5 linked regions of the Homo sapiens genome follow. The protein of the gene in region 1 purifies or fractionates together with the protein of each later gene. This does not show direct contact. Each region holds a gene or a part of one and is shown in the gene's direction. Other genes may lie near its edges.

What was found.
Region 2: the proteins of UBE2J2 (region 1) and ARG1 purify together in Homo sapiens (affinity purification with mass spectrometry; one large-scale study listed by BioGRID and IntAct). This does not show direct contact.
Region 3: the proteins of UBE2J2 (region 1) and CASP14 purify together in Homo sapiens (affinity purification with mass spectrometry; one large-scale study listed by BioGRID and IntAct). This does not show direct contact.
Region 4: the proteins of UBE2J2 (region 1) and MBL2 purify together in Homo sapiens (affinity purification with mass spectrometry; one large-scale study listed by BioGRID and IntAct). This does not show direct contact.
Region 5: the proteins of UBE2J2 (region 1) and PKLR purify together in Homo sapiens (affinity purification with mass spectrometry; one large-scale study listed by BioGRID and IntAct). This does not show direct contact.

What each region holds. Positions count from the first base shown.
Region 1 is NC_000001.11:1,259,036-1,265,817, reverse strand, and holds part of UBE2J2 (ubiquitin-conjugating enzyme E2 J2), read left to right. Parts: intron 1-227; exon of another isoform or gene 228-987; coding exon of another isoform or gene 988-1,035; intron 1,036-2,431; coding exon 2,432-2,472; intron 2,473-3,427; exon of another isoform or gene 3,428-3,533; coding exon of another isoform or gene 3,534-3,549; intron 3,550-6,782. UniProt on the Homo sapiens protein: Catalyzes the covalent attachment of ubiquitin to other proteins. Seems to function in the selective degradation of misfolded membrane proteins from the endoplasmic reticulum (ERAD).
Region 2 is NC_000006.12:131,568,863-131,576,382, forward strand, and holds the start of ARG1 (arginase-1), read left to right. Parts: upstream 1-4,363; 5' UTR 4,364-4,420; coding exon 4,421-4,477; intron 4,478-5,103; exon of another isoform or gene 5,104-5,430; coding exon of another isoform or gene 5,431-5,433; intron 5,434-7,520. UniProt on the Homo sapiens protein: Key element of the urea cycle converting L-arginine to urea and L-ornithine, which is further metabolized into metabolites proline and polyamides that drive collagen synthesis and bioenergetic pathways critical for cell proliferation, respectively; the urea cycle takes place primarily in the liver and, to a lesser extent, in the kidneys.
Region 3 is NC_000019.10:15,054,093-15,060,531, forward strand, and holds the end of CASP14 (caspase-14 precursor), read left to right. Parts: intron 1-1,065; coding exon 1,066-1,182; intron 1,183-1,263; coding exon of another isoform or gene 1,264-1,337; coding exon 1,338-1,441; intron 1,442-1,892; coding exon 1,893-1,997; 3' UTR 1,998-4,201; downstream 4,202-6,439. UniProt on the Homo sapiens protein: Non-apoptotic caspase involved in epidermal differentiation. Is the predominant caspase in epidermal stratum corneum. Seems to play a role in keratinocyte differentiation and is required for cornification.
Region 4 is NC_000010.11:52,762,899-52,768,633, reverse strand, and holds the end of MBL2 (mannose-binding protein C precursor), read left to right. Parts: intron 1-123; coding exon 124-497; 3' UTR 498-3,254; downstream 3,255-5,735. UniProt on the Homo sapiens protein: Calcium-dependent lectin involved in innate immune defense. Binds mannose, fucose and N-acetylglucosamine on different microorganisms and activates the lectin complement pathway.
Region 5 is NC_000001.11:155,294,939-155,299,604, reverse strand, and holds part of PKLR (pyruvate kinase PKLR), read left to right. Parts: intron 1-3,848; coding exon 3,849-3,940; intron 3,941-4,036; coding exon 4,037-4,168; intron 4,169-4,302; coding exon 4,303-4,489; intron 4,490-4,666. UniProt on the Homo sapiens protein: Pyruvate kinase that catalyzes the conversion of phosphoenolpyruvate to pyruvate with the synthesis of ATP, and which plays a key role in glycolysis.

The sequences.
Region 1 (6,782 bases):
ACTGAAAATACAGAAATTAGCCCGGTATGGTGGCGCACGCCTGTAATCTCAGCTACTTGCTACTTGGGAGGGTGAGGCAGGAGAATCGCTTGAACCCGGGAAGCGGAGGTTGCAGTGAGCTGAGATCGCACCACTGTACTCCAGCCTGGCGACAGAGTGAGACTCCACCACACACACACACACACACACACACACACACACACACACACACACAATGGAGAGAAAACACACACACACACACACACACACACACGAGAGAAAACTGCAGTCAGCCAGCGGAAGAGGCATGTGGGGCAAAGTCTCTGTGCTCCATTCCCAGCAGCAGGCTTGGGTTTGGACGGCATGTGTGGAATGTTGAGCAGAGAAACTCATTGGAAACTAAAACATTAGGGGAAGGCCCAGGGACTTTATGGGGCTGGTCCTAGGCACCCTCTGCCTGGCACCTGCCAAAATACCAAAATACCAGACTTCCAGGAGAGCAGGGGCTCAGCGTAGCCCATGTTGCCTGTACTGTTGAGGCATTAAGGACAGCAGCGTCAGTGCGAGAGCCCCTGGCAGGTCCTCGGCAGGTGTCTCTCCCTTCCCCGAGAGAAGACTGCTTTCCCAGAAAAGGCCTGTGGGGTGCGCTATGGGCCACGTGGATCCCATCTTCTCTCAGCCGCCCCAAGGCTGCTGGGCTCTGTCTCAGGAAGAGGATGACTTCTTCATTTCTTCCCAGTTTTCGCAGGTTGGGCACAGTAACAACGTAAGGCCACATTCCTGGGTGCATCGCGTGCTGAGCTCAGAGCCACTGGGTTCCTGGGTCAATGACACATGATAATGGCATTTTTTGAGTAAAACATACCAGCTGGCTCTGCTGATACATCATCCCATTAGTATACATTACTATACGTCATCCCATTAGTAGTTTCTTTTGAGTACTATTTCTGTCACTCAGGCTGGAGTGCAGCGGTGTGACCTCGGCTCACTGCAACCTCCGTCTTCCAGGTTCAAGCGATTCTCCTGGCTCAGCCTCCTGAGTAGCTGGGATTACAGGTGTGTGCCACCATGGCTGGCTAATTTTTGTATTTTTAATAGAGACAGGGTTTCACCGTGTTGCCCAGGCTGGTGTTGAACTCCTGACCTCAGGCAATCCACCTGCCTCAGCCTCCCAAAGTGCTGGGATTACAGGTGTGAGCCACCGCACCTGGCCTAATTTTTGTATTTTTAGTAGAGACGGAGTTTCGCCATGTTGACCAGGCTGGTCTCGAATTCCTGACTTCAGGTGATCTACCCACCTTGGCCTCCCAGAGTGCTGGGATCACGGGCATGAGCCACCGAGCCCAGCCCCCATTAGTTTTAAAGTGATGGCACACATGTCCTGGGGCAGAGCAAGGGGAAAGATGATGGCCGGTGTTGGCCGGTGTTGGCAGTTGAAGCCATGTCTGGTTTCTGGCATTTCTAGCTGGTTTTACTTTCTTCTCTGTGCTCTTCTGTTTCGTTTGGGAATCTGTAAAGCCCAGACACTTCTTTACGTAAAGCAGAAGCCTTATTTATTTGTGTGGAGGAGTGTTTAGTCGATTTGCTGCTGCCCCTGGTCTGAGGGTGAGCTCTGTGTGGGGACTGTGGCTTTGGACACAATCACGGCAGTTCCTGTTCCTTCTGCTCCAGGACAGCTGCTCAAGTCACTTATGGTTTTTCCAGGAGCACGAGAAAGGGCTGGGGGTACCGAGCCGGCCCCGCATCACTAGCTGTGTTCTGTTTAGCCTGCATGTGTGATATCAAAAAACACATTATATATAAGTACATTTAAGAATATACATTTCAAAGTACATCGTTTTTTCTTTGGAGATAGGGTCTCACTCTGTTGCCCAAATGGGATGTGGTGGCACAATCATAGCTCACTGCAGCCTTAAACTCCTGGGCTCAAGTGATCCTCCCGCCTCAGCCTCCTGAGTAGGCGGGCTGCAGGCATGCACTACCACACCCGGCTAACTTTTTTTTTTTAAATAAAGGTGGGGTCTTGCTATGTTGCCTAGGCTGGTGTCAAGCTCCTGGGCTCAAGCGATCTTCCACCGTGCCCTCCCAAAGTGCTGGGATTACAGTCTTCAAGTACATCTTAGTAATGTACTGTGAAATTAAAATTTATTTAAGATTTCAGTTATTATTAAGATGAGCTTCGTGCATGTTATATTGTCGAAACAAAGGTACTTTATGGTAAACTTATAAAGTATAGTCTCTAAGATCCTGTTACAAGAGACTAAAAGCACCCACGGTAGAAGAGACGGGGGTTTTGAAGCCGTGTGGCTGTGTGACATTTCACCTTCATTTGTTCACTGCCTGAATGTGAATGTAATTTTGGCTGGGTTCTATAAACCCCAGGCTTGGAATGATTCAGATTTTGGAGAATTTGCTGTCCTCAAATCCCAAGTAATTTTCTTCTCTCCCTTAGGCACTATGTCGTCCGAGGCCCAGAGATGACCCCTTATGAAGGTAAGGATTCTGTGCTTAGGAGAAGAACACCAGGCGGTTTTTATATTCTCAGTCAGCCTTGCCTGTTCAACATCTTTTATTTGCAAACAGCAGCCTTTCTACTTTGGATGTGTGCTAGTTAAATTGGCTTAGTTGGAACTCCTCCTCGTCTGCTTCTCCACACGCTGGAAGTGTTTGCTCTGCTGATGTGTCTCAGCCTGCAGGGCCGCCTGTAGCGTCTGTGTTCACCAGCCTCTGACACCATAGGGCCATAGCTGAGAAAACCAGACCGGGGTAAACACTGAAGCTGGCCTGTTCTACTATTTCTTAAGACCCAGTGCATATCATCAAAGGAAAGGCACATATATTCAGTTATTCAGTGTGCCTTCTGTGCTGGGCGCCCCCAGGGTTTCGCAATCCCCAGGACGGTCTCTGAGCTAAGTGGAAGTACCCCTGTGTGGTGGCACCTGGGGCTTCGGTAGGCTGCAGGACCTGTCCAGCACCTCAGCCCTTCATCGACTACCAAGGCTGATCCAGCAGCCTGACCCCTCCAGGTCAGCAGACACCACCTAGAGACCTAGTGTCATTTATAGAGAAGATGCTGGAGCTGTCAGTAAGTTTCTGGGGCCTTTGGCGGAGGCTGGCGCCAGCCTCGATCTGGACCAGGTCAGTAGTCAGTGTGCCCGTGAATACTGTCCCGCCGGCAAGCACAAGGCAGAGCAGGGCCAGGTCAGCAGTTGCTGTCCAGCCACAGGGCCCCGGCTTCAGGTGGCTGGAGCAGCAGGCTCTGTTTGCCTGTGTGTGGAGGCTTTGGATGAGATTTCACTAGAAGAGAGTGCTGCTGCTAGAAGAAGGTTTGCAACCCCTGCTTTGGACTGTCGGGAGGGTTGTGGGTGGGTAAGAATGAAAAAGGCTCTCCTGAAGGCATTTTGGCCGAGTTAACACAGCCACACCTGTGGACTCTCCTTTGGCCCAGGAATCCCAGTTCTGGATCATCTGCAACTAGGGCAGCCAGAGTGCGGGAGTACATCTGTAGGGTGGGCCCTCCATCATCGTGTCATTGCCCATGACCAGCGTTGGGGATGCCAGCAGGCCGTGGTGAGATAAGGCCCGGGAGCAGGTGTCCAGGGCGTGTTAAAGTACTTGTTACGATGCGTGTGTGTGCCTTCAGCTGATCTGAAGAATATATACCACCGAGTGAGTAGTGGTCGGCCGGGCGCGGTGGCTCACGCCTGTAATTCCAGCACTTTGGGAGGCTGAGGTGGGCGGATCATCTGAGGTCAGGAGTTCGAGACCAGCCTGACCAACACGGAGAAACCCCATCTCTACTAAAAATACAAAATTAGCCGGGTGTGGTAGTGCATGCCTATAATCCCAGCTACTCGGGAGGCTGAGGCAGGAGAATCACTTGAACCCGGGAGGCGGAGGTTGCAGTGAGCCGAGGTCGTGCCGTTGTATTCCAGCCTGGGTGACAAGAGTGAAACTCGTCAGGAGATCCAGACCATCCTTGCTAATACGGTGAAACCTTGTCTCTACTAAAAAAATACAAAAAATTAGCTGGGCGTGGTGGTGGGGCCCTGTAGTCCCAGCTACTCAGGAGGCTGAGGCAGGAGAATCGCTTGAACCCAGGAGGCGGAGCTTGCAGTGAGCCGAGATCGCTGCACTCCACCCTGGGTGACAAGATCAAAACTCCATCTCAAAAAAAAAAAAAAAAACCAAAATGGGTGGTGGTCTTTGACAAGCAAAATTATGCCAGCTTTACATTTTTTTTGTTTGTTTTGTGGTTTTAGTTTTTTAAAAATAAATAGTGAATATTAATTCTGTATCCACACCCAGTCTCCCTCAACTTCACCAGCTAGGTCAGTTGCTGGTGGAGATGAGCTGCTCCCCCAACAGGGCTGGACACAGTTGGGAGAAGAGGGGGCAGCCCCTGGGTGTGGTGCGGCCGTTGCCAGCCCCAACCCTGTCACTTGTGCTTTTATCTTGGTCCCCTCCCATCGCTTCCGTTGTTCCCCACAACCGTGTGTGGCTCTGTGCTGGTCCTGGGTCTCAGGAAAGCCTCCCTTCAGAGAGAGAATGTGTGTTCCTACTGCCCCTCCCATTTCCCTCTATGGCACTGCTGCTCCCGTCCCCGCGGACCTCCCCCTCACTGGGGGATGCCTTTTGCTCTCTGCAGCCCTGCCCTCTGCTCTCCTTCAGGGTCTCCAGGGAACCCCTCCGAATTGCCACTTGCCGAGGGGCTGTTCTCAGTCCTCAGTTTCTTAGCCTCTGGTATCTGATGCTGCTGACGACAGCTTCCTTCCTGACTTCGGGATTTCTGACCCCTTTTCCTGCCTGTGCATTAGCTGCGTCCCCTCCGTGCACTGGGTTCCGTGGCTGTTCTGCCCCTGGTGCTGCCCAGGCGTGCCCACTCTGACAGTTCAGAGCTGGCTTCCTACAAATGTTGCTAAATCATTCCCCTTGAGTGAATCTGTAGATTTCACACAGTCCTAACAAAATCTCAGTTTTTTATACTACACAAGCTACATGCAAAGGCAAAGGACCTAGAACAGTTAAAACCATTTTTCTAAAGAATGAAGTGGAGTCTGTGGTTTCAAGACTTACCCCAGTGATGAGGGTCAGGCAGTGGTAGAGGAGGGACAGGCCATGGGGCAGAGTAGCCAGCTAGGCCTTTGCCTCAGGCTTTTCAGCAGATGGCCTGGGGTGTGGGGATGTTCAAGCTGCCAGGGACCCACTTCAGGACAAGTGGGTGCTTCCTGATTTTCATCTGGTGCTGTGAACGTCTGTGTGTGTGTGGCTCTTGGTGCCTTTGTCTTGGGTTTCTCTGGCGGGTGACAAGCAGTGGGATAGCCGTCTGGGGCTTCCCGATAGGTGTGCGCGCAGTGAGGCAGCAGGGCGCCCGTCTCCCATCCCGACAGGTGTGCGCACGCAGTGAGGCAGCAGGGTGTCCATCTCCCAGCACCCTCTGCGCTCAACTGGCTGTTTCCTGCCGTGTAAGTCACTCTTGCCCATTAGCACCGAGCTAAACATCGTTCCAGCCTCGCTTTGGCTGTTCCCGCTTCCTCTTTTAAGCAAGCCTGTTTCTTTCACTCACTTTCCAGTTTGGCCTTTCCTTATGATCTCTTGTGTCTTCTGGGTGTCATTCCTGGGCTTCGCCTCTCCCTGGTGGATGTGGCCGCACGCCAGGATGGGTGACAGTGGCACTTGCTCATGCCGTCCCTCCACTGTTGACTCCACCCCTGTTCCTGCGTGTCCTCGAATGCCAGCCCTGAGCAGAGTGCAGAGAGGAAGCTGCAGCGTCCCCCTGCTTGGCCATGTGTGTCTTCAGGGGAGGCAGACAGTGAAGCCGTGTTTTCATTTAGGATCTATGGGAGGGAGAGCAGCCCCTAGTGATCAAGAGAGAGACACGAGGGAAACACGTGCGGGAGGCCACACATGCAGGGAGGCCAGGGAAAGTGGAGAGAGACTGGAACCCCCAGGCCGACCCTTTATTGGGTCCAGGGCGTTCTGCACACAGGTTTCCCTTGGGGAGTTTTAACTGGTGGGTTTAATACAAGCGGGCACGAGCCCCGTGGGGCCACGCTGTGACTGTGGGGGACTCCGTGGTGTGGCTGCACAGTCCATGTGGGGCGTGGGGTCCGTGGGGACATGGGGGGTGGTCACCAGGGGACAGTGCGTAGGGCGGGCGTCTGGGTGGATCAGCTCGAGGAAGGGGGATGTGAACTGAAAATTGTTGCGGGTGGCAGCCCCGCTTCTGGTCAGAGAAAGTCCAGCCTAGATTCAGAGTGGATGCCGAGGCGGCCTAAGATGATGAGCGTTCCTGCAAGATGTAAAGCACTCGAGGGGCAGGGGTGCTGCATCCTACACAGGGTGGGTCTAGAGCAGAAGAGCCCGTGGCGATTTGGGGACTCGCATTGGGGCAGGGCTGTGCACAGGGAGCCCAAGGGAGGACAGAGGCCAGTGCTCCTCAAACCTGATGGCATGCACACGCATACACACGCATGCACGTGTCCTGATGGCACGCACACACATGCCCACGCCCATGCGTCCTGATGGCACGCACGTGCACACGCGTCCTGATGGCATGCACATACACATGCACACACACGTGTCCTGATGGCATGCAGACACGCACATACATGCGTCCTGATGGCATACACACACACATGCACACAAGTGCGTCCTGATGGCATGCACACACTCAGACACGCACACACGCGTCCTGATGGCATGCACACACGTGCGTCCTGATGGCATGCACACACATGCACACACGTGCGTCCTGATGGCATGCACACACACATGCACACACGTGCGTCCTGATGGCATGC
Region 2 (7,520 bases), on another chromosome or scaffold:
GTGCCGCTTCAATTCTGGGAGGGTAAAAAAAAAAGAAAGGAAGGAAAGAGTAGGCGTCTGTTAACATATAGTTGTGAAGCAACCCGAGCCAGACACTTCTTATGAACCTTCTTTTTATGGTGACCCATGCTACTTAGGCTACTAATATGCCTTAAGGGGTTAAGAGAGTTCCTACTCAAAGAAATGACTATGTAACTTACCCAGAGATCATCCTGTTTGAACATTTCCATAAAATCATAGTGTGTAGTGTTCCAGGACCAGGTCCAACCTTACCGTATTGGATTTAAGGGGTCTAGGAAATGCACCAAGCAAAATGATTCCCTGAAGTCTCCCGATTCAAGATTTAGTCTTTCAAATTTTGTGTATATTCCAGTCTTTGGTAAAAGTGCTAAGAATCCTGGGCCTCATCTGGAAAGAATTCTTATCTGTTAGCTGGCTGTTGAAAAGACAATGCAGAAATGGGCTGTAGTTTGGAGCAACAGAAAGAAAAACAAGTAGAGGGCAAAAGTGTGTCATTTTTTTCATCCCTCTCATTATGTAAGTTTTTTGTTTTTAACTTTTTTTTTTTAACTTTTTTTTTTTTTTTTTTTTTTTGAGATGGAGTCTTGCTCTGTCACCCAGGCTGGAGTGGAGTGCAGTGGTGCAATCTTGGCTCACTGCAACCTCCGTCTCCCGGGTTCAAGTGCTTCTCCTGCCTCAGCCTCCTGAGTAGCTGGGATTACAGGCACTTGCCACCACACTCGCCTAATTTTTTGTATTTTTGGTAGAGACAGAGTTTCACCGTGTTGGCCAGGATGGTCTCGAACTCTTGACCACGTGATCCACCTGCCTTGGCCTCCCAAAGTGCTGGGATTACAGGCATGAGCCACCACGCCTGGCCTCATTATGTAACTTTTTAATTCATGCTTTCTTTATCATTTCAATAATATTAATTTGGGCTGCTAGGGGTTGAATTACATCCCTCCAAAAGATATGTTGATGTCCTAACCTTCAGTACCTCAGAATGTGGCTGTATTTGGAAACAGGACCATAGCAGATGTAACTAGTTAATATGACACCATACTGGTGGGTGGGGGGCTTAACCCAATATGACTGTCGTCCCTGTAAGAAGACAGCCATGTGAAAACACAGAGACACAGGGAGCGTGCCAAGTGAAGATGGAGGATTGGAGTGATGCACCTAATGAGCCGAGAAATGCCAAAGATTGCCAGAAAACCTCCAGCAGCTAGGAAGAGGTAGGAAGGATTCCCTGCAGGTCTCAGAGGGAGCATGGCTCTGCCGACACCTGGATTTCAGACTTCTATCCTCTAAACTATGGATAAAAAAATTGTATTTTATTTTATTTTTATTTTTTATTTTTTATTTTTTATAAGCACCCAGTTTGTGGTACAAGTACTTTGTAACAGCAGCCATAGGAAACTAATACAAGGGCCTGTTATGTGTCAGATCTCATTCCAGTAGCTTTGGATTAGGGTCAAATAAGATGTGGTCTCATTCCCAGGAAAATGCCAGATAGGATTTTTCTTTCAACATTTGGTTAAGAGACTTGCAGTGTTAGAAGGGCTTTTAAAACCTCAATGTACATAACCCTGAGATAAATGAAAGAATTGAGCTGAAGAAAGTGTATCTTTGATAGAGTGATATAGGTGAGACACCCCTTATCTTCTTCCTCTAGCAGTCTTGAGATGACAGCTTTGGAGACTGAAAAAATAGCTTGTGTTAATAATAAAAAGGAAGCAGCAATCACTAGAAGTCAGCATGAGTTCACCAAGAACTGGACCTGTCAAGGTCAGCCCATCAACTTTGACAGGGAAGTCAGATTGGCAGAAGAAAAGGTAGTAAAGTGTGATGAGATTTTATTGAGACACCGGATAAATTTCCTTACGATGTCCTTGTGAACAGGATGGAGTGGTTGAGTTGGAAATTAGTAATCAGTTGTATCTCAACTGATGATTAATTAATGGGGCTATGCCAATCTGGGTTAAGGTTTCCAGTGGAATGTCACAGAGTGTTTGTAAAAGTGCTGCCTTATTCAACATTTTTATCAGTGACTTGGAAAAGTCAAATGTTATCAAATTTGTGTCTGATGGACCAGATAACTCCACCTGTATTTGGATATGTGCATTTTGTTCTGGATGCCCTATTTAGGAAAGGCAGAGGGAAGCGAGATGTTTTGAAGACAGCGACCAAGTTGGTGACCTGAAGGAAAGTGGCAACTATGTAACACAAGAAATTAGTGAGGTATTTGGGAATATTCAGCCTAAACAATAGAAATCCAAGAAAGACATGACAGCCAAGAGATAATGTGCTTTACTTGGATTAAAGGGTGGTGACCAATGGTTCATATGACAGGAAGGCAATCTCAGCTTGGCATACAAAGAACTTTCAGGATGTGAATTTTTCAAAGAAAAAATTCTAGCAATCAAATTTGAAAGTTAGCAAATCTCCATGGATTGATTTATAAATCTAGTAAAAATTCTAGCAAATACTTTTAAGGAATTAGGTTATTCCAACTATAGGAGAATAGAGACCCATAAAAGGTAAATCAATTTTGAAAAAGAAGAGCAAAACAGTTACTCTTGCCTAAACAATGATAAGATGTACCGCAAAACTGTATTGATAAAACCTGATGGATCTGGTGCAGCCATAGGTAAATAAGTCAATGGAACAGAAGAAAGAGTTTAGTGACAGACAGCACTCCAATCAATTGCAAAATGAATGACTATTCAATGGGTGTTGTTGAGGAAACTGATGCATGAATGATAGAGGAAAAACGAGTTGGAAAATTTACATAACATACAAAGATGGATTCAGGAACTAAGTGAGAAAGATAAGCTCTAAGGCAAATGGAAGAAAATGTAAAACTACATACCTACAATTTGATGGGGTGGCAGGAATTTAATAAGACTTCCAAAGCACAAAGCATTCGGGGGAAATTATACAAGTGTCTATTTTAAAATTGAGGATTTTGAGTGATAACATATAAAAAGTTATCAGATTTCTGACAGGTTGGGAAAAGTTATTTGCAATGTCAATGCTATAAGGTTAATATCTAGGCAATATGAGGAATACCACAAGTAAATATTTAGGATATACAAGCAAACCCACAAGAAAAAGGTAGGAAACCTATTTGGAAAACAGTCCTATCAAAATGGACCCATGAGACTTTGGTTTCCTCATTTATCCATTCAATAAATATTTATTGAGTGCCTATTATACACCAACACTCTTCTAGGCCCTGGGGATACAGCAGACAAAATTCTCTGACCTCATGGAATTTAAATTCCAAAATGTTCTTTCCCACCAATAGGAAAAAGAAATTAGTTTCTACTAAGTGAATTTTCCCTTTAAATTACAATTACATAATTTTAAAGTCGGAAGGATCTTTAAGGTGCCTTTATTTTAAATTCATACTTTTGTATGGTGACAAATGGTAGCTCAGGGGCATAGAGGTTGACACCTTCCCAGCATTTAGACTATAAGCTCGACGGTTAAGTGGATTCAGAATGGCAGAGACTAAATCCCGACTTTTCTTCTACAGCCTATGTTGGCAACGGGTCTGAGCTTCAGTTTATTCATCAGTATAATGGCACCAATGATGAGACTTCACATAAAATTGGTATAAATATAAATATGGTATTTTGAAACAGAACTGCATCGGACACATGGTAAAAACTCAATGTTAGCTATTTTTATTTCTATACTTTGATTATGATATGATTCTACAATTATTTTCCTGTACACCATACTTCAAAAATGGTAACCTCTCTGGGTTACCAATCAAGTAACTAATTTTTTAAAGTAATCATCAAAAAAGGAAGTTATATACTCTTTATTATATTATACCCTAAAAGTTTATGAAATGTGTCTCATGGATTAACCATTTACCCTCATGTGTGAAATCTCAACTCAGGATTTTAGGGCTGGAAGGGATGTGACAGACGATCTTGCCAAGCCCGGCCCTTCTTCTACAAGGACGTCTTCAGAGATCTGGAGGAGGAAAGGGCCTTGCCCTGAGTTCGCTGAGCCAGAACAATAGGACTTCTTCTGTAGTTGTGAAACTTGTCAGTTGTTGAAGTCAGGTTAATGTCATCTGGCTGGCTTTTTAAAAGGGTGTGAAGTGAGAACATGAATAATTGTCACTTGATTAGAGACCTAGACTCAGAGTTAGGTTACTCCATGTATGAAGTAACCCCATATAGTTACTTCATACATGGAGTAACCATATAGTTACTCCATGTATGAAAAATTGCAAGACTGTTGACTGTCATTCTTTGGTTTAGTGGGTGGAGCCAGCTGTCCTCATTAGATAAAGGTTGTTTATTCAACCCAAGTATAAATGGAAAAAAAAGATGCGCCCTCTGTCACTGAGGGTTGACTGACTGGAGAGCTCAAGTGCAGCAAAGAGAAGTGTCAGAGCATGAGCGCCAAGTCCAGAACCATAGGGATTATTGGAGCTCCTTTCTCAAAGGGACAGGTAAGGAAAAAAGTCTTTCTTTGAATTCCTGGAATTTAGTTGAAAATTTTGGACTTCAAAATTTGTAAGGTGTTATTGTCTAGTTAGTTCAGTTTTCTGATACAATCTGGCCAGGAAATGCATATTTTAAAGTCCTCTCACCATTTTCCAACATTGTATAATTATAGTCACATATCCACTTACTTTTGTGGCTCGTGATCTCAGCCAAGGCTAAATTCATTTGAACCTACAGAATGTTTTCTCATATTTTTTAGGAGAAAATATTTTTCTTTGAATTGAAATGGACTCTTTCTGCATTGTAGCTACTCATTGAGGTTTAGTTGCTCTTGTTGTTTTTGATGTTACTGTGTGTATGTAGAGGAAGAGAGAATTTTAAGAAATACATTTGTTTAGTTATGTAATTAATGCCTAGAAAAATTTAATAGTTTGGTGGTAACCTTCAGGCTTCTTATAATTTGGATAACCTAAATATTATTGTTTCATGCAACTTTGTGAATAATTCATGTTATGTTAGGGTTTTAATGTTTCTATGAAACTGTTCATTCATGGACTAGGTAGAATCCTTTATGTGCCTCACTTGGAAGGGGAAAAAAAGAACAAAAAAAGAAAGAAAATCCTACTGCGGGTTGGCAACTCTAAAAGGATTTTAATGGATTTATGAAACCCCCAGATTTCCTTACAGCCACGAGCTGTGAATCCACACATGCCAGCAACATTGAATACACTTTTTTTTCTGCCTGGGCACACTTATTCTAGTAAAGAGAGTGTGATGACAGAACACCTTAGACTTCAACACGCATCTGTGCTTAAAGAGGATAAAAAACAAAGAACAAAATCAAACAAGACAATGTATGAGTTGAAACTACTAAGGTTGATTTTCTCCAGGTTTCTCAGGATCTGGGCAGCGTTTTGCTTCCTCTTAATTTGGAACCCTTGCTGTGTACTCTGACTTTTTACTGCAAAACAAATTGAGAGAGGCCAGAGGTTAGAGGCCCAAACTGCATTTGGACTGTCAGTAAATACTACTTTGCTTCCCCTGGAAATCCTCCAAAAGTCTCTCCCAAACACAGGGACATTTTGCTGACACAGAAATGTTCCTTTTAAAATCCACACTGTTCTCACCCACTCTTGAACAGGTTATAATAAATATATAATTTAAAAACCTCACAAAAGGGAAGCAAGTGTCCTCCTTCTACCACCCTCCTCCCATTAAAACATGGTCATGAGAATGGAGTTCATTGTCTCATGATTGTAAGGACTAAGAGAGAGAGATTTTTTACACTAAGTCATAGAGTAGAGAGGATAAAATGGCCAACATATAAGTATTTGTCCTCACCTAAAGGAGGTACAAGTTTGACAAATAAGCAAAAGGAAAGGATTAGAGGGCAGATGACTAAAATGTTGAGTCTGAGAAAGGGCTTCATCCCTGTCTCACCTCCTTGAAAGGCTTGCAAGGCAGCGAACAAACAATAAGGTAGGTATTATTTTTACCTTACAGTTGGGTTAAAAAAAAGCCCAGAGAGGTTTGGTAATGTGCTCAACGTCACACAGCCTTGACTGCATAATTCCAGACAAGATAATCTGATTCCAATGCCTATGCCCTTGATTTGCACTGATGTCTCTTCAGACTATTCAACTCCAAAGGCGACCTTATACTTGTGGCCATTTAGGGATTGGGCCCAGCTTAGAAAGTCGGTGGAGCTGACAAAGCAATTTCCAAAGTGGGCAGATAGAGCAAGCAAGAGGAAAGCCCAATCATGAGAAGCCATTTGAATAAAACAAATAAAAAAGAATTCTAGAAAATTTAATGGCTGTGTTATAGCAAATATAGTGTCAACTAAGGGGTCTATGAGCTTTGTTCTAAAATATGAAAGGGAGAAGGGTAAAAAAGCCAAGGAGTTTTATCAAACTGAGTATTGAGTATCTACTATATGTCAGCTCTACACTACAAAATATAGTGCCCCACATGTAAAGCAAGCTGGACTGAAATCTAACAATGAGGAAAAGACAAAAACAGACACAAAACTAAAGGCAAAACATGAACCAAGCAGCACCCTATTGGGGTTGAAAGAAGGAGAAATCATGTTTACTTGATTGGGGAGAGGCAGGTGTGTCAAGCAAAAAGGGAGTAAAGAAGCAAAATGTGTCAGGCAGAGGATAGGGCGGGTCCCTTGCTGCCAGGGACAGGAATTTAACATCAAGGATTTGCCTGGCACCCAGGGCAAGTCTTCTGTTCCTTTGAATGGGGAAAAAATACTTGCTTACTTTGATGCCACAGCCCCAATCCTAAAGATAGACACACGTGTCTTTTAACACATTGTCTCATCTGACAACATGTAATAATCTTCTGCATCTAAAAGCTCTGTTGGAAATTAAAATCAGAAAGATACAGAAAGGAACTGTGCCTTTAGACCTCTAATTGTTCAGGGGACTGAGGAAGACTTGCCCCTTGGAGGAAGAGTGTTAGTTTCCCTAATGTCAAAACGGCAAGGGTAGAACTTCCCATCATACTGTTAAGCAGGCCAAAACTTGAAATTACTGGGTTGGTCTTTGTTTGTAGTTTTCAGCTCCCAGATGATGACTTTTTCTGTTGCCTGCTTTCTCCCCAAGAGCTCTAGCTTACTTATGTGAGTACATGCACGTAGGTCTCTTTCATGTCACACTCTTTCGATGCTTTTGCCCAATCGTTCCCTTGGTTTGCAGAGTTTCTCCATCACTCTGTCTTGTTTTCCTAACTACCTACTCATGTCGCAAGACTCAGCTTAAACAGCATTTATTTCTTGCAGCCTTTACTGACACACCCTGTCCCCAACAGTGTTAAGGGCATCCTGTTTTTGTTACTAGGACATTTTATATCATCACTGAAGCAGCTATGTATTGAAACTGGAGTTAAATGCCCATATCTCCTATCAGCTTATGAGGGACTCAAAGTCAAAAGCCTTTTCATTATTGGATCTCATCTACCAGACTGCTTTTGCACAAACTACTTGTTCACTGTGTTGATAACATGGTTTGACGGGAAGAGGGGATGTAGGTTTTGGAA
Region 3 (6,439 bases), on another chromosome or scaffold:
TCCTGCCTCAGCCTCCTGAGTAGCTGAGACTACAGGCTCCCGCCACTATGTCAGGCTAATTTTTGTAGACAGGGTCTGATTATGTTGCCCAGGCTGGTCTCAAACTCCTGAGCTCAAGCAATCCTCCTGCCTCAGCCTCCCACCATGCCCAACCAAGTCTGTGTTTTTATCCAAGCCAGTCCCAGATCCAAAGCCCCAGCTGAAGCCAGGCACCATGGCTCATGCCTGTAATTCCAGTACTTTGGGAGGCCCAGGCGGGAAGATTTTTTGAGGCCAGGAGTTCAAGACTAGCGTCGAGCAATGTAACAAGAACCCAGCTCTATGAAAAATATTAAAGATTAGCCAAGGGCATGGTGGCATGGGCCTGTGGTCCTAGCTACTCAGGAGGCTGAAGTAGGAGGATCACTTGAGCCCAGGAGTTAAGAGGCTGCAGTGAGCTATGATTACACCATTGCACTCCAGCCTGGGCAACAAAGCAAGCCCCTGTCTCTAAAAAGTTAAATTAAATTAAAAAGCCCCACTGCACATGGCATACCACAAAAGCATCCTTTTTTTTTTTTTTTTTTTAGACGGAGTCTTGCTCTGTCACCCAGGCTGGAGTGCGATGGCACAATCTTGGCTCACTGCAACCCCCACCTCCCAGGTTCAAGCAATTCTTCTGCCTCAGCCTCCCAAGTAGCTGGGATTACAGGTGCAAGCCACCATGCCTGGCTAATTTTTGTATTTTTAGTAGAGATGGGATTTGACCATGTTGGTCAGGCTGGTCTCAAACTCCTGACCTCAGGTGATCTGCCTTCCTCAGCCTCCCAAAGTGCTGGGATTACAGGTGTGAGCCACCGTGCCCAGCCCTTACCTTTCTTTTTAAGAGGCGACATCTCGCTCTGTCTCCCAGGCTAGAGTGTAGTGGTGCAATCATGGCTCACTGCAGCCTCAAGCTCCCAGGTTCAAGTGATCCTCCTGCTTCAGCCCCCCAAAACACTGGGAATACAGGTGTGAGCCACCCTGCCCAGCCCCTTTCCTTACCTTTCTCTCTGACTTTGCCTCCTCCTCTTCTTGTTGTTTCAGAACAAAGGGACCCCGGTGAAACAGTAGGTGGAGATGAGATTGTGATGGTCATCAAAGACAGCCCACAAACCATCCCAACATACACAGATGCCTTGCACGTTTATTCCACGGTAGAGGGTATGAGCTCCCAGCTGGCCCAGGGATCCCTCTGCTCTTCCCCCTCTCCTGCCACTCCCAACTCCTGAACCTCTCCTCCAGGACCCACGCCCTTCCAGGATCCCCTCTACCTACCCTCTGAAGCTCCCCCGAACCCACCTCTCTGGAATTCCCAGGATACATCGCCTACCGACATGATCAGAAAGGCTCATGCTTTATCCAGACCCTGGTGGATGTGTTCACGAAGAGGAAAGGACATATCTTGGAACTTCTGACAGAGGTGAGTTGACAAAAGGTAGCTGGGACCACCGCCCAGGCCAAGAAGGGTGCAGGCGGAGGGGGCTGAGCCTCCTCCTAACCCCTCTCCATTTCCCTCAGCTCCAAATCCAAGCCAGATCTCAATACAGAAACTAAGAAGCCCACTTTCCAACAACTTTCCCAAATGCAGGGACTCTTAAAAGCCACAGTATGGGAGATAAATTTCTATAAACAAATCCCCCTTGGATATAAACAATGTTTGGGCAAACTGTTTTCTTTTAATGTTTATATGTTTTTATTGCAAATTATTTAAAAAATGCCCAGCCAAGGATTCCATACAAACTATGGTATAGGAAGAGGCCACAACGGTCTCTCATCTTAGGACAAGAATACCCACCTGCCCCGTTCCCTAACCCTCCCCCCATAAGTCCATGACACTGACTCCTCCAAGCTCACCACACCTGTTGCTGCAGGTGACCCGGCGGATGGCAGAAGCAGAGCTGGTTCAAGAAGGAAAAGCAAGGAAAACGAACCCTGAAATCCAAAGCACCCTCCGGAAACGGCTGTATCTGCAGTAGAAGTAGAAAGACCAGGAGGAGCTTTCCTTCCAGCATTCTTTCTGTCTCACAGAAATTTAGAGGCAGCTCTTACCTCTCCCCAAGATCTTCTGTTCCCAAGGCCAAATGGCACCCAGTTTCTTTTCCATCACACCCTTCATGCAGGTCCTCCTGTCCTTATTAGAGCAAGCCAGCCAAAACTTAGCACAAGGCATGGTGGCAACATTAACATCACCTCCCTCAGGCTGGACTTTCTATCTTTATTAATGCAACCGAAGAGACCTAAGAGTGCATTCACTTATCCCACTTTCTGTTCCTGTGGTCTTCTTTCTCCCATGAAGCAGAAACTGGATAAAGCTCAAGATTTTCCATAGACAAACCAAAGCCCACTCATCCCCTCCTACCCCAATCCAACCTCTGCTGGCTCCTGCATCTCACTTGGAGGTCAAACCTCCTCCTGAGGCCAATGCATTCCCAACTTCCAGTTCTTTCCTTTACCCTGGAGAGTTAGTAAGGTAAGAACCATTCTTTCTCTCCAAAACCACTCCTCCTTGGCTGGCAAGTTGGTGTCCTAACTCCGTTCTCTTCCTAGCTCATGGCCTCTCTAGATAATAAAGTTGTCTCCTCCTTTCTGGATCTCTTCCTCCTAACACCCCTCCCCTGAAACCCTGGACTCTGCCCTCTCTCCAAGAAAATCCATCTATTCAACTATTCTTGCATTCAATTACTCTAAATGAGAGCGTGTTGGAGCTATGGCAAATTCCCTGTTGTCACCTTGCTATTTTGCAGACAACATAATATTTAACCTCTCATAACCAGAGAGGTTAAATAATTTGTCAAATGCAATACAGTAAGACAGAGGCAAGGACAAGGTTTGACTTCCAGCCCAGCCTCTTTTCCACAACCTGCTAAATCCTGATCCATCTGAAAACTTTTCTAATTAGTGAAGATGACTAATAAAAATTTTCCCTATCTCCAAGGTAGGAGCTTTCTGGAAGTTTCTAGAAATTTTCAATAACCACCAGCCAAGGTTACCTCCAGGTAACCTTGCAGCACCAGGCTGGAAGTCAGATCGGCTTCACTATCTTCCAACTCTACAGCCTGTATCTCTCCATCCCCAGCTTTGACCTTTCCTGCTCAAGTAACCTACGGGCACATCCAGCGTCACTAAAAACTCAGGGCTTTTCTTCCCGGTTACTCCTCCAAGCGTTCCCTGGTATCCTCAACCTCAGATCCCAGGTTCAGATTTCTGCAGTCAATCTATGACCCCTCTCTTCTTGCATCCTTCATATGCCACCAGACACCATGCCCAGTCCAGCCTGATTTTGAAACAACTTTCATGCCGGTCTTCTCTTCCCTGACATGTTACTGTCCAGGCTCAAGTCCTCAGCTTCTCATATCTGCATCTTTGCAACCAACTTCCTCCCTTGCCTCTCTGCTTTTCCATCCCACTTTTCATGTGTCCTCCATACCATCTATAACAGTGATCTCCCTGGAACACTCAAGAAGACACAACATACCATATTATTTAAAGACCAGGGTACTGGACAGTGGCTCACACCTGTATTCCCGACTTTGAGAGTCTGAAGCGGGAGGATCACTTGAGGCCAGGAGTTAAGAGACCAGCCTGGGCAACACAGCAAGACCCTGTCTCTAAAAAAAAAAATTAATTAACTGGGTATGGTGGCACATGCCTGTAGTCCCAGCTACTCAGGAGGCTGAGGTGGGAGGATGACTTGAGCCCAGGAGTTTGAGGCTGCAAGGAGCTATGATCATGCCAGTGCATCCCAGCTCTAGGTGAGACAGTGAGATCCGGTCTCCAAAATAAATCAATCAATCAAATAAAGACCAAAGTCAAACCGCACATCAGGATCTCTCACACCCTTCCAATTTTGCCATCTACCAGCACTTAGCTAAACCCATCTCCCATCTCTTCCACCATGAATTCACTCTTTCAAAAAGGCTAATGTCTTCTTACTCACCCTTGCCTCTAAGCCTTTGCTATCACCATTTCCCCCAAGCTGGAGGGCCCTCCCTCTCCCTTTACCCCTCTTCCACTACCTCCCACCCCTACTTTTTCCAGAAAGCCATTTCCTCTCTTTTTTCTGATTGATCCTTCCCTCTCACCCAGGATTAGATGCTGGAAATGACCACTTCTGGAGGGCAGGGAACAAGCCCTTAATCTGCATAATGAGTGTTCAATAAACAGTTGTCAAACTTTGAAAGAAAGTGTTGAAATCTTTGTTCTGTGCTGAAACAGTGAGGCTGATACAAAAGGAGTTATGGATTTAATTTCTTTTTTCCCAGTGGCTGGCTTCCTCCCAGGTGTGTCTATCATGAATGGAGAATCAGGAGCTTCAGCCTGTGTCTTCTTTCCTTTTTTTTTTCTTTAAGAGATGAGATCTTGCTCTGCCACCCAGGCTGGAGTACAGTGGCACCATCATAGCTCACTGCACCCTCGACCTCCTGGGCTCAAGCAATCCTCCCACCTCAGCCTCTCATGTAGCTGGGACTACAGGTGTGCATCACCACACCTGGCTAATTTTCTTATTTTTCGGTAGAGATTGGGTCTTGCTATGTTGCCGAGGCTGGTCTCACAGTCCTGGTCTCAAGCAATCCTCTTGCCTTGGCCTCCCAAAGTGCTGAGATTACAGATGTGACCCACCACACCGAGCTCCTGTCTCTTTCACAAAAACAGACGTGTTGGGAATTTGTAAAGTTACAGGCCACACTTTCATGCTGAATGGCTATCTTTTACATAATTGTTCCATCTCCAGAATGTTTCCAAGGAAGTATGCAGACAGAAAAATGTCACTTTTCAGAACTATAAGGGACATTGGAGGTGGGCTAGTTACAGCATCAAAGACATTTAGCAAGTGTGCCATCTCTCTAGCCTGGTGCCCATGGCAGACATGACTAATCAATCACACCTATTTTTCCTAATGAACTCAAGTGTTACCTCAAAGCCTTTCTCCTCTGAGCACTTGGGAAGCTGACACCTGTCTACTGGCATAAGTACATCATTCCTGATCCATTTGAACCTCCACCTTAGGAAGTCAATCGTCTATGGTCATTTTATGTGGTACACCCAGGAATCTAGCCATGGCAGTAACCGGGGTTTTATCCATGGAGATGGAAAACCAAGTGGCCAACACAGGGGTGGGTTCGAAGGGCCAAGAGATCTGGGGTGATGCATGCACTGAGCTCTATACACTTACTTACATGCCAACCTGCGGTCCAAACACCCAATGATTCTGGGAGTCTCCAAACATGAGGGTCAGAAAACTGTGTCTCACTCACCAGATCCAGTCTGCAGTTTGTTTTTATCAACAAAGCTTTGCTGGCACACAGGCATGTTTATTCACTTACATACTGGCTACGGCTGCCTTCAACCTACAATGGTAGAGTTGAGTAGTTAGAACAGACAGCATATGGCCCACAAAGCTGAAACTATTTACTATTTGGCCCCTTACAGAGAAGGTTTGACAACCCCTATCCTAATATCTTTCCAAAAATTCCAATTTTGCTATCAATACTAATTTTGATGTCAATGACGTATCACCTCACACCTGTTGGGATGGCTATTATCAAAAAGATAGGAGATAAGCGTTGGTGAGGGTGTGGAGAAAAGGGAACCTTTGTTGGTGGAAAATAGAATGGTGCAGCCATTGTGGAAAACACTATGGAGATTCCTAAAGAAATTAAAAACAGGCTGGGCATGGTGGCTCACACCTGTAATCCCAGCACTTAGGGAGGCTAAGGCGGGTGGATCACTTGAGGGTGGGAGTTCAAGACCAGCCTGGCCAACATGGTGAAACCCCGTCTCTACTAAAAATACAAAAATTAGCCAGGTATGTTGGTGGGCGCCTGTAATACCAGCTACTTGAGAGGCTAAGGCAGGAAAATCGCTTGAACCTGGGAGGCGGAGGTTGCAGTGAGCTGAGATCGTGCCACTGCATTCCAGCCTGGGAGACAGAGTGAGACGCTGTCTCAAAAAGAAAAAAAAAAAGGAAGAGGCTGGGCGCGGTGGCTCACACCTGTAATCCCAGCACTTTGGGAGGCCGAGGTGGGCAGATCACGAGGTCAGGAGATCGAGACCATCCTGGCTAACACAGTGAAACCCCGTCTCTACTAAAAATACAAAAAATTAGCCGGGCATGGTGGCGGGCACCTGTAGTCCCAGCTACTTGGGAGGCTGAGGCAGGAGAATGGCATGAACCCTGAAGGCAGAGCTTGCAGTGAGCCGAGATCACGCCACTGCACTCCAGCCTGGGCGACAGAGCAAGACTCCATCTCAAAAAAAAAAAAAACAGAACTACAAAATAATCAAGTAATCCCACTCCTAGGTATATATGCAAAATAAAGGAAATCAATATATCAAAGAGATATCTGCACTGCCATGTTAATTGCAGCACTATTCACAATAGCCAAGATATAGAATCAACCTAAGTGTCTATCAATAG
Region 4 (5,735 bases), on another chromosome or scaffold:
TTCAAATTTAACTGGACATACTATATTTTATCCGGCAACTGTACTCTAGAAGACTTTTTCTTGAGAAATACCTTGAGTTGGGCTTAAGGATGAGTCAGTTTCACCCACTTTTTCACATTTTAGGGCTCACCTTCTCTCTGGGCAAACAAGTTGGGAACAAGTTCTTCCTGACCAATGGTGAAATAATGACCTTTGAAAAAGTGAAGGCCTTGTGTGTCAAGTTCCAGGCCTCTGTGGCCACCCCCAGGAATGCTGCAGAGAATGGAGCCATTCAGAATCTCATCAAGGAGGAAGCCTTCCTGGGCATCACTGATGAGAAGACAGAAGGGCAGTTTGTGGATCTGACAGGAAATAGACTGACCTACACAAACTGGAACGAGGGTGAACCCAACAATGCTGGTTCTGATGAAGATTGTGTATTGCTACTGAAAAATGGCCAGTGGAATGACGTCCCCTGCTCCACCTCCCATCTGGCCGTCTGTGAGTTCCCTATCTGAAGGGTCATATCACTCAGGCCCTCCTTGTCTTTTTACTGCAACCCACAGGCCCACAGTATGCTTGAAAAGATAAATTATATCAATTTCCTCATATCCAGTATTGTTCCTTTTGTGGGCAATCACTAAAAATGATCACTAACAGCACCAACAAAGCAATAATAGTAGTAGTAGTAGTTAGCAGCAGCAGTAGTAGTCATGCTAATTATATAATATTTTTAATATATACTATGAGGCCCTATCTTTTGCATCCTACATTAATTATCTAGTTTAATTAATCTGTAATGCTTTCGATAGTGTTAACTTGCTGCAGTATGAAAATAAGACGGATTTATTTTTCCATTTACAACAAACACCTGTGCTCTGTTGAGCCTTCCTTTCTGTTTGGGTAGAGGGCTCCCCTAATGACATCACCACAGTTTAATACCACAGCTTTTTACCAAGTTTCAGGTATTAAGAAAATCTATTTTGTAACTTTCTCTATGAACTCTGTTTTCTTTCTAATGAGATATTAAACCATGTAAAGAACATAAATAACAAATCTCAAGCAAACAGCTTCACAAATTCTCACACACATACATACCTATATACTCACTTTCTAGATTAAGATATGGGACATTTTTGACTCCCTAGAAGCCCCGTTATAACTCCTCCTAGTACTAACTCCTAGGAAAATACTATTCTGACCTCCATGACTGCACAGTAATTTCGTCTGTTTATAAACATTGTATAGTTGGAATCATATTGTGTGTAATGTTGTATGTCTTGTTTACTCAGAATTAAGTCTGTGAGATTCATTCATGTCATGTGTACAAAAGTTTCATCCTTTTCATTGCCATGTAGGGTTCCCTTATATTAATATTCCTCAGTTCATCCATTCTATTGTTAATAGGCACTTAAGTGGCTTCCAATTTTTGGCCATGAGGAAGAGAACCCACGAACATTCCTGGACTTGTCTTTTGGTGGACATGGTGCACTAATTTCACTACCTATCCAGGAGTGGAACTGGTAGAGGATGAGGAAAGCATGTATTCAGCTTTAGTAGATATTACCAGTTTTCCTAAGTGATTGTATGAATTTATGCTCCTACCGGCAATGTGTGGCAGTCCTAGATGCTCTATGTGCTTGTAAAAAGTCAATGTTTTCAGTTCTCTTGATTTTCATTATTCCTGTGGATGTAAAGTGATATTTCCCCATGGTTTTAATCTGTATTTCCCCAACATGTAATAAGGTTGAACACTTTTTTATATGCTTATTGGGCACTTGGGTATCTTCTTTTGTGAAGTACCCGTTCACATTTTTGTATTTTGTTTAAATTAGTTAGCCAATATTTTTCTTACTGATTTTTAAGTTATTTTTACATTCTGAATATGTCCTTTTTAATGTGTATTACAAATATTTTGCTAGTTTTTGACTTGCTCCTAATGTTGAATTTTGATGAACAAAATTTCCTAATTTTGAGAAAGTCTTATTTATTCATATTTTCTTTCAAAATTAGTGCTTTTTGTGTCATGTTTAAGAAATTTTTGCCCATCCCAAAATCATAAGATATTTTTCATGATTTTGAAACCATGAAGAGATTTTTCATGATTTTGAAATCATGAAGATATTTTTCCATTTTTTTCTAATAGTTTTATTAATAAACATTCTATCTATTCCTGGTAGAATAGATATCCACTTGAGACAGCACTATGTAGGAAAGACCATTTTTCCTCCACTGAACTAGGGTGGTGCATTTTTGTAAGTTAGGTAACTGTATGTGTGTGTGTCTGTTTCTGGGCTGTCTATTCTAGTCTATTTGTTGATGCTTGTGTCAAACAGTACACTATCTTAATTATTGTACATTTATAGTTGTAACTATAGTCCAGCTTTGTTCTTCTTAAAGTCAAGATTTCCATATAAATATTAGAAACAGCTTCTCAATTTCTACAAAATCCTGATGAGGTTTCTACTGGGACCACATTGAGTCTATCAATCAACTTATGCAGAACTGGCAACTTACTACTGAATCTCTAATCAATGTTCATCATGTATCGCTTCATGTAACTAGAATTTCTTTAACTTAATTGCTATGTTTTGACATTTTTAGTTTAAAAACCTTGTATATCTTGTTTTGGTGGTTTTAGTGATTTTAATAATATATTTTAAATATTTTTTCTTTTCTATTGTTGTACACAGAAATACAGTTAAGTTTTGTGTGTAGTCTTACGATGTTTAGTAAACTCAATAAGTTTATTTCTTAAATCTAGTAATTTGTAGATTCCTCTGGATTTTGTATATGCATAGTCATGTAAGCTGAAAATATGGCAATACTTGCTTCTTCCCAATTGCTTTACCTTTTTTCTTACCTTATTGCACTGGTTAGCAACCCCAATACAGAGACCACCAGATCAGGTATAGACTCCTGAAAGACAATATAATGAAGTGCTCCAGTCAGGCCTATCTAAACTGGATTCACAGCTCTGTCACTTAATTGCTACATGATCTAGAGCCAGTTACTTTGTGTTTCAGCCATGTATTTGCAGCTGAGAGAAAATAATCATTCTTATTTCATGAAAATTGTGGGGATGATGAAATAAGTTAACACCTTTAAAGTGTGTAGTAAAGTATCAGGATACTATATTTTAGGTCTTAATACACACAGTTATGCCGCTAGATACATGCTTTTTAATGAGATAATGTGATATTATACATAACACATATCGATTTTTAAAAATTAAATCAACCTTGCTTTGATGGAATAAACTCCATTTAGTCACATTTTATCTTGTGTATGTATTATTGGAGTGGACTTGTTAATAGTTTGTTTAGAACGTTTGCACCTATGTTCATGAGAGATACTAGCTTTTTTTCCCCTCCTTAATGCACTTGCTATGGTTTGGGGTCAATGTTATGTAAGCCTCATTAAAATGAGCTGTGATGTGCTCTCATGCTCCTTATTATCTAAAATAATTTGTGTAAAATTATACTTTAATGTTAGATAAATTCACCAGTGAAGCCATCTTGGAATGGTGTTTTCTGTTGGGAAATGATTTTAATTTCAGATTTAATTTCCTCATGATCTAAACCTATTCATGTTTTCTGTCTTTTGTTCGGTTTCAGTGAGTTATATTTTTCAATGAATGTGTCAATTTCCTCTGAATATATATGTATTGGCATAAAATTGTTACAATATCTTTGTATTTCTTTTCAATATAAGTAGGATCTATAGCAATGTCTATGTATCTGTTATGATTATTTGCATTTTATCTTTATTTTATTGTATTTTTTTTTGAGATGGAGTCTCACTCTGTCACCCAGGCTGGAGTGGCTGGAGTACAGTGGCACGATCTTGGCTCACTGCAATCTCTGCCTCCCAGGTTCAAGAGATTCTCCTGCCTCAGCCTCCCAGGTAGCTGGGATTACAGATGCCCACCACCATTCCTGGCTAATTTTTTTAATTTTTTGTGGAGACGAGGTTTCGCCATGCTGGCTAGGCTGGTCTCAAACCCCTGACCTGAGGTGATCTACCTGCCTCAGCCTCCCAAAGTGCTGGGATTACAGGCATGAGCCACTGTGCTTGGCCCATCTCTTTTTTTCTTAATCAATCTTGCAAAGGATTTGTCCATTTTATTAAATTTTTCCAAAAACTTCTTTTTGGTGTTTACTAACCTCTATGATTACATTTATTTATATCTGTTCCTGTCTTTATCATTTCTTGTATCGATCTTCTGTGGGTTTAATTGGCCATTCTTTTTCTAGCTTCTTTTAATTGACATTTAGAGAACTGATTTTCTTCCTTCCTTCTTTGCTAATATAATCATTTAAAGTTATAATTTTTATTTAAGAACTATTTCAGCTGCATACCACAGGTTTGGATATGTATCTTTTCCCACCAATTCAAAATAGGTTTTTCATATCCAATTCAAAATATTTTATAATTTTCATTGTGACTTCTTCGACTCATGGTTTATTTATAAGTGTGTGGTTTAATTCCTAAATATTTGAGTATTTTAAAAAGCTATACTCCTGTAAGTGATTTATAGTTTAATTCCACTGTATCCAGAAATATACTTTTATATGAGTTCAATCTTTTGAAATTTGTTAAGATTTTATTTTATGATCCAGTTTATGATTTAGAATGGTAAATGTATTATGTGCACTAGAAATAATGTGGTTTTTACAGTTGATTAGTGTATCATTAGGTCAGGATATGAATCTTCTTTGTATTTTCTGTATTCTCACTAATATTTTGCCCTTTTAGAAGGAAATAACAAAGATCAGAATAGAAATAAATGACATAGAGAGTAGAAAAGCAAATAGATCAATGAAACTCAAAAGTTAATTTTTGTGAAATGATACAATTTCCAAACTTTAGCTAAAATAACTAAGAAAAATACAGAGAAGACTCAAAATCAGAAATGAGAGGAGACACGACAACTGATAACATACAAGTACAAAGGATCATAAGAGCTACATTCCTTTGTGTTACATTGTTTTCTCTTTACATTCTGATTGTCTCTCGCTTGCTCGCTGTCTTCTTTTAAAGTTTTGTTTCAGAAGAACTAAAAAAATCTAGGTTTAAAATGTACAGATATCCTTTGTAACTTAGCATTAGGCAAAATTGTCTTAGAGAACTCAATTACTTTTCAAGTAAAAAATGATAAATTGAATTTCATCAAAATTAAAGATTAACTCAGTTTGTTAAACATTAGGAAAACAGGCAAACCATGACTAGGAGAAAAATATTTGCAAATATTGGCCTGCATCTGTCAAAGGATACATAGGATACAGAAACAACTGCTATAAGCCAGCAATAAAAAGACAGAACTGGGAAGGGATGGCCAGGGACCAAAGGAGAAGAAATGAAACACAGGATAGACCACCTTCAGTGTCCTTGGTCAGGAATTCCCATTCCTTAATGTTGTGGGCTAAATAGTGTCGCAAAAAAAAAAAAAAAAAAAAAAAATCTATGCAAGTCCTAACCACCAGGACTTATGAATGCACCCTTATGTGGAATTAGGGTCTTTACAGTTATGATAAAGACAAGGCGAGGCCACACTGGATTAGAGCAGGCCCTAATCCACTGACTGGTGTCCTTCTAAGAAGAGGGAAATTTGGACACGCAGTCACACAAGGAGAATGCTGTGTGATGAAGAAGGCAGAGAGTGGAGTGACACATCTTTAAGACAAAGACTGCCAAAGATTGTGGACAATACTGGTATCAGAAACTTCTGCCAACTTCTTCTGAAACGTCTGCCT
Region 5 (4,666 bases), about 150 Mb from region 1:
AACCCAGGAGGCGGAGACTGTGGTGAGCCGAGATCACACCATTGCATTCCAGCCTGGGCAACAGGAGAAAAACTCCATCTCACAAAAAAAAAAAAAAAAAAAAAAAAAAAAAAGTGGGCTGGGCTCAGTGGCTCATGCCTGTAATCCCAGCACTTTAGGAGGCCAAGGTTGGCAGATCGCTTGAGCCCAGGAGTTTGAGACCAGTCTGGGTAAATGGCAAAACCCATCTCTACAAAAAATACAAAACTTAGTTGAGTGTGGTGGTGCATGCCTGTAGTCCCAGCTACTCAGGAGGCTGAGGTGGGAGGATCACTTAAGCCCAGGAGGTCACGGCTGCAGTGAGTCATGATCGAGCCACTGTACTCCAGCCTAGGTGACAGACGAGACCCTAGAGAGAAAGAGAGAAAGAAAGAAAGAAGGAAAGAAAGAAAGAAAGAGAGAGAGAAAGAAGGAAGGAAGGAAGGAGGGAGGGAGGGAGGGAAGGAAGGAAGGAAAGAAAGCAAGCAGGCAAGAAAGAAAGAAAGAAAAGAAAGAAGGAAGGAAGGAAGGAAGGAAAGAAAGAAAGAAAGAGAAAGAAAGAAAGAAAGAAAGAAAGAAAGAAAGAAAGAAAGAAAGAAAGAAAGAAAGAAAGAAAGAAAGAAAGAAAGAAAGGAGTGAAAGTTGGCCGGGCATGGTGGCTCTTGCCTATAATCCCAGCACTTTGGGAGGCTGAGGCAGGTGGATCACCTGAGGTCAGGGGTCCGAGACCAGCCTGGCTAATGTGGTGAAACTCTGTTTCTACTAAAAATACAAAAAATTAGCCAGGCATGGTGGCATGTGCCTATAATCCCAGCTACTCGGGAGGCTGAGGCAGGGGAATCGCTTGAACCCGGGAGACAGAGATTGCAGTGAGCCAAGATCACGCCATTGCACTCCAGTTTGGGCAACAAGAGCGAAACTCTGTTTGTTTGTTTGTTTGTTTTTAAAAAAAGAAAAAAAAGCTGGGCGCGGTGGCTCACGCCTGTAATCCCAGCACTTTGGGAGGCCGAGGCGGGCGGATCACCTGAGGTCAGGAGTTCGAGACCAGCCTCAACATGGAGAAACCCCGTCTCTACTAAAAATACAAAAAATTATCCGGGCATGGTGGTGCATGCCTGTAATCCCAGCTACTCAGGAGGCTAAGGCAGGAGAATTGCTTGAACCTGGGAGGCGGAGGTTGCGGTGAGCCAAGATCGTGCCATTGCACCCCAGCCTGGGCAACAAGAGCGAAACTCCGTCTCAAAAAAAAAAAAGGCCAGGCGTGGTGTTTCATGCCTGTAATCCCAGCACTTTGGGAGGCCGAGGCAGACTGATCACGAGGTCAAGAGATCGATACCATCCTGGCCAACATGGTGAAACCCCGTCTCTAATAAAAATACAAAAATTAGCTGGGCGTGGTGGCACATGCCTGTAGTCCCAGCTACTCGGAAGGCTGAGGCAGGAGAATCACTTGAACTGGAAGGCAGGGAGCAGAGATCGCACCTCTGTCCTCCAGCCTGGTGACAGAGCGAGATTCCATCTAAAAAAAAAAGAAAAGAAAAGAAAGAAAAAGTGAAAGTTTTAAGTGCTATGGGGAAAGAAATCAAGTGTGATAAGGGCATCAGGAGTACGAGGGTGAAGACAGGTTGCAGCCCTAAATAGGGAGGTCAGTTATTATTGAGTAAATGAGACCAAAGGGAAGACTTGAAGGAGATGAGAGAATTAGCCATGCAGAGACCTGGGGGAAGAGAATTCCAGGAAGAAGGATCAGTCAGTGTCAAGGCCTAAGTCAAGAAGGTTAGAAGAGCTAGAAACCATCAAGGGGGAAGAGCGGCAGACATGAAGAGACTGTGTACGGACAGGAAGATCAGGTGCAGCTTTGTAGGCCATTTTTAGAATTTGAGTTGCGTTTTCCTCCGAGTGAAATGAGAAACTGCTGCAGGGTTTTGAGCAGGGGAATGACAAGCTCTTATTTATGTTTTAATAGAGCCTCCCCTCCCCTGCTGCTGCACTGAAAATAGATGGGGGGTGGGGGGAAGGGTGCCCCTGCAGTATTTCTGGCTCAGACCAGTTGGCGGCAGTGAGGTGGTGAGAAGTGGTCAGATTCTGAATGTATTTTGCAGGTAGAGCTGACAGGATTTGCTAATTGATCGGATATGGGGTATGGAGTGTGGGCGAGAAAGAAAGGAGTCAAAGGTGACAGGTGACTCTGAGGTTTTTGCCATAAGGAACTGGAACGATGCATTAGCCACTGAGCAGGAAAGACTGTGGTGGAAGGGGTTGGGGGGAGAGCAGAAGTTTGCTTGGGACATGTTGAGTCTGAGATGCTTATTAGCCATCCAAATGTGATAGAGGGGGCAGTCAGGTACACAACTCTGGGTTTGGGAGAAAGGTCTGGATTGGAGAGACATTTGGGAGTTGGCTACATATAGATGGTATCTCAAGCCATGAGACTAGTTGAGACCACCAAAGGAGTGTAGGTGAAATGACGGAGAAGAGAACAGGGTATCTAACGTTAAGGGGAGGAACAAGGAAAGGAGACTGGGAAAGAGCAGCTAGTGAGGTAGGAGTCAACCAAGAGAGGGTGCAGCCCTGGAGGTCAGGTGAAGACAGTGTGTCAAAGAAGGATGTATGTTCAGGCTGCTGATGGGCCAATAGAGGAGGACTGAGCATTGAGCATTACATGGAGCAAAAACACAGAGGTTCTTGGTGACCTTGACAAGAACAGATGCAGTGGAGAGATGGAGGCCAACGCCTGAGTGGGGTGGGTTCAAGGGAGAATGGGGGAGGGGAACTAGAGGTAGCAAGTACAGATAACTCTTGCGATGAGTTTTGCTGCAAGTGAGAGCAAATACTGGGACTGAGGGGAAACCAGGAGATTAAGAGAATTTTTTTTTAATGATGAAAGAAATAACAGTAGGTTTACCTGCGGATGGGGATGATCCAGTAAAAAAGGAAAACATGGCTGGGCACGGTGACTCACACCTGTAATCCCAGCATTTTGGGAGGGCGAGGTGGATGGATCACCTGAGGTCAAGAGTTCAAGACCAACCTGGCCAGCATGGTGAAACCCCTTCTCTACTAAAAATACAAAAAAATTAGCCAGGCGTGGTGGTGCACACCTGTAATCCCAGCTACTCAGGAGGCTGAAGCAGGATAATCACTTGAACTGGGGAGGCAGAGGTTGCAGTGAGCTGAGATGGTGCCACTGCACTCCAGCCTGGGCGACAAGAGTGAAACTCCCCCCGTCTCAAAAAAAAAGAAAGAAAAAGAAAAGGAAAACATGGGTGTCACAGAGGACCACAGAATGGCTTAATTTATGTCCTTGAGCAGGTGAGAAGGAGGAGACCTAGTGCACAAGTGGAAAGACAGATAGGGACCGAAGAATGAGCCAACCTGCTCTCGGCTAGCAGCTGCCCCATAGCAGTGCAGGCATGGGATAGAACTCAGCTCTCCTCAGTCCATGAGGCCTCCTAGCTCTAAAAGCCCGCACCCAAACGCCCTCACCTGGCTCCCAGCCCCTGCCCTACACCCCATACCCTGGGGTAGCCGGGCAAGCAGCACTTACATACCCATGCCCATACAGTGCCCATACATGCCCATACAGTGACCTCAGGCCTGGCGGAGGGCACTCCCCTCCGATTTCCACACTGCTGCCTCCCCAAGGGGATGGATGTTGGCTTGAGAGGGAAGGGGAGTCTGTGATCTGTGGGCAGGGGTTGCATCAGGGAATAAAGATCAGGTAACAGGACGCCTGTGGCGTGAGGCGTTCTGAGAATGGTAATGGGTTGGGTTTGGTTGCCTCTCATGTTCTGGGGGAACGTTGTCTGAACGTGAATCTCTGGTTCTAGGGCCAGCATCTCGCTCCGTGGAGCGCCTCAAGGAGATGATCAAGGCCGGGATGAACATTGCGCGACTCAACTTCTCCCACGGCTCCCACGAGGTGCGGGACGGGCCGCCGGGCAGTGGGTGGGGCAGGAGGATGCCTCGAGGTCCTGGCCACCTTCCCCTGAAACCCTCGCTCCGCTCCCTCCCCCAGTACCATGCTGAGTCCATCGCCAACGTCCGGGAGGCGGTGGAGAGCTTTGCAGGTTCCCCACTCAGCTACCGGCCCGTGGCCATCGCCCTGGACACCAAGGGACCGGAGATCCGCACTGGGATCCTGCAGGGGGTGAGCAGTGGGGCTGGGACTCGCTGGGCCAGGGCCGGAAAGGCGGCGCCTGTAGGGTTGGGCCCAGGCGTGGGCAGGGGCGGGTCCCGGACTCCGGGGCTCAGAACTCACATCTCCTCTGGCTCCCTCCTTAGGGTCCAGAGTCGGAAGTGGAGCTGGTGAAGGGCTCCCAGGTGCTGGTGACTGTGGACCCCGCGTTCCGGACGCGGGGGAACGCGAACACCGTGTGGGTGGACTACCCCAATATTGTCCGGGTCGTGCCGGTGGGGGGCCGCATCTACATTGACGACGGGCTCATCTCCCTAGTGGTCCAGAAAATCGGTGCGGACGCGCCTCCCGCCCTGACCACATCCGTGCGCTGGGCACATTCCCTTCTCCTTGGCTCCCCCATCAGCCCTCAGACCGATCACACCTTCCCCTGGCCACGCGTTTTTGCCAGCCCGTCCCAGGAGTCCCCAGCGTGTAGACTCTGCGCTCACCCTGGGTTTGGGCTGGACT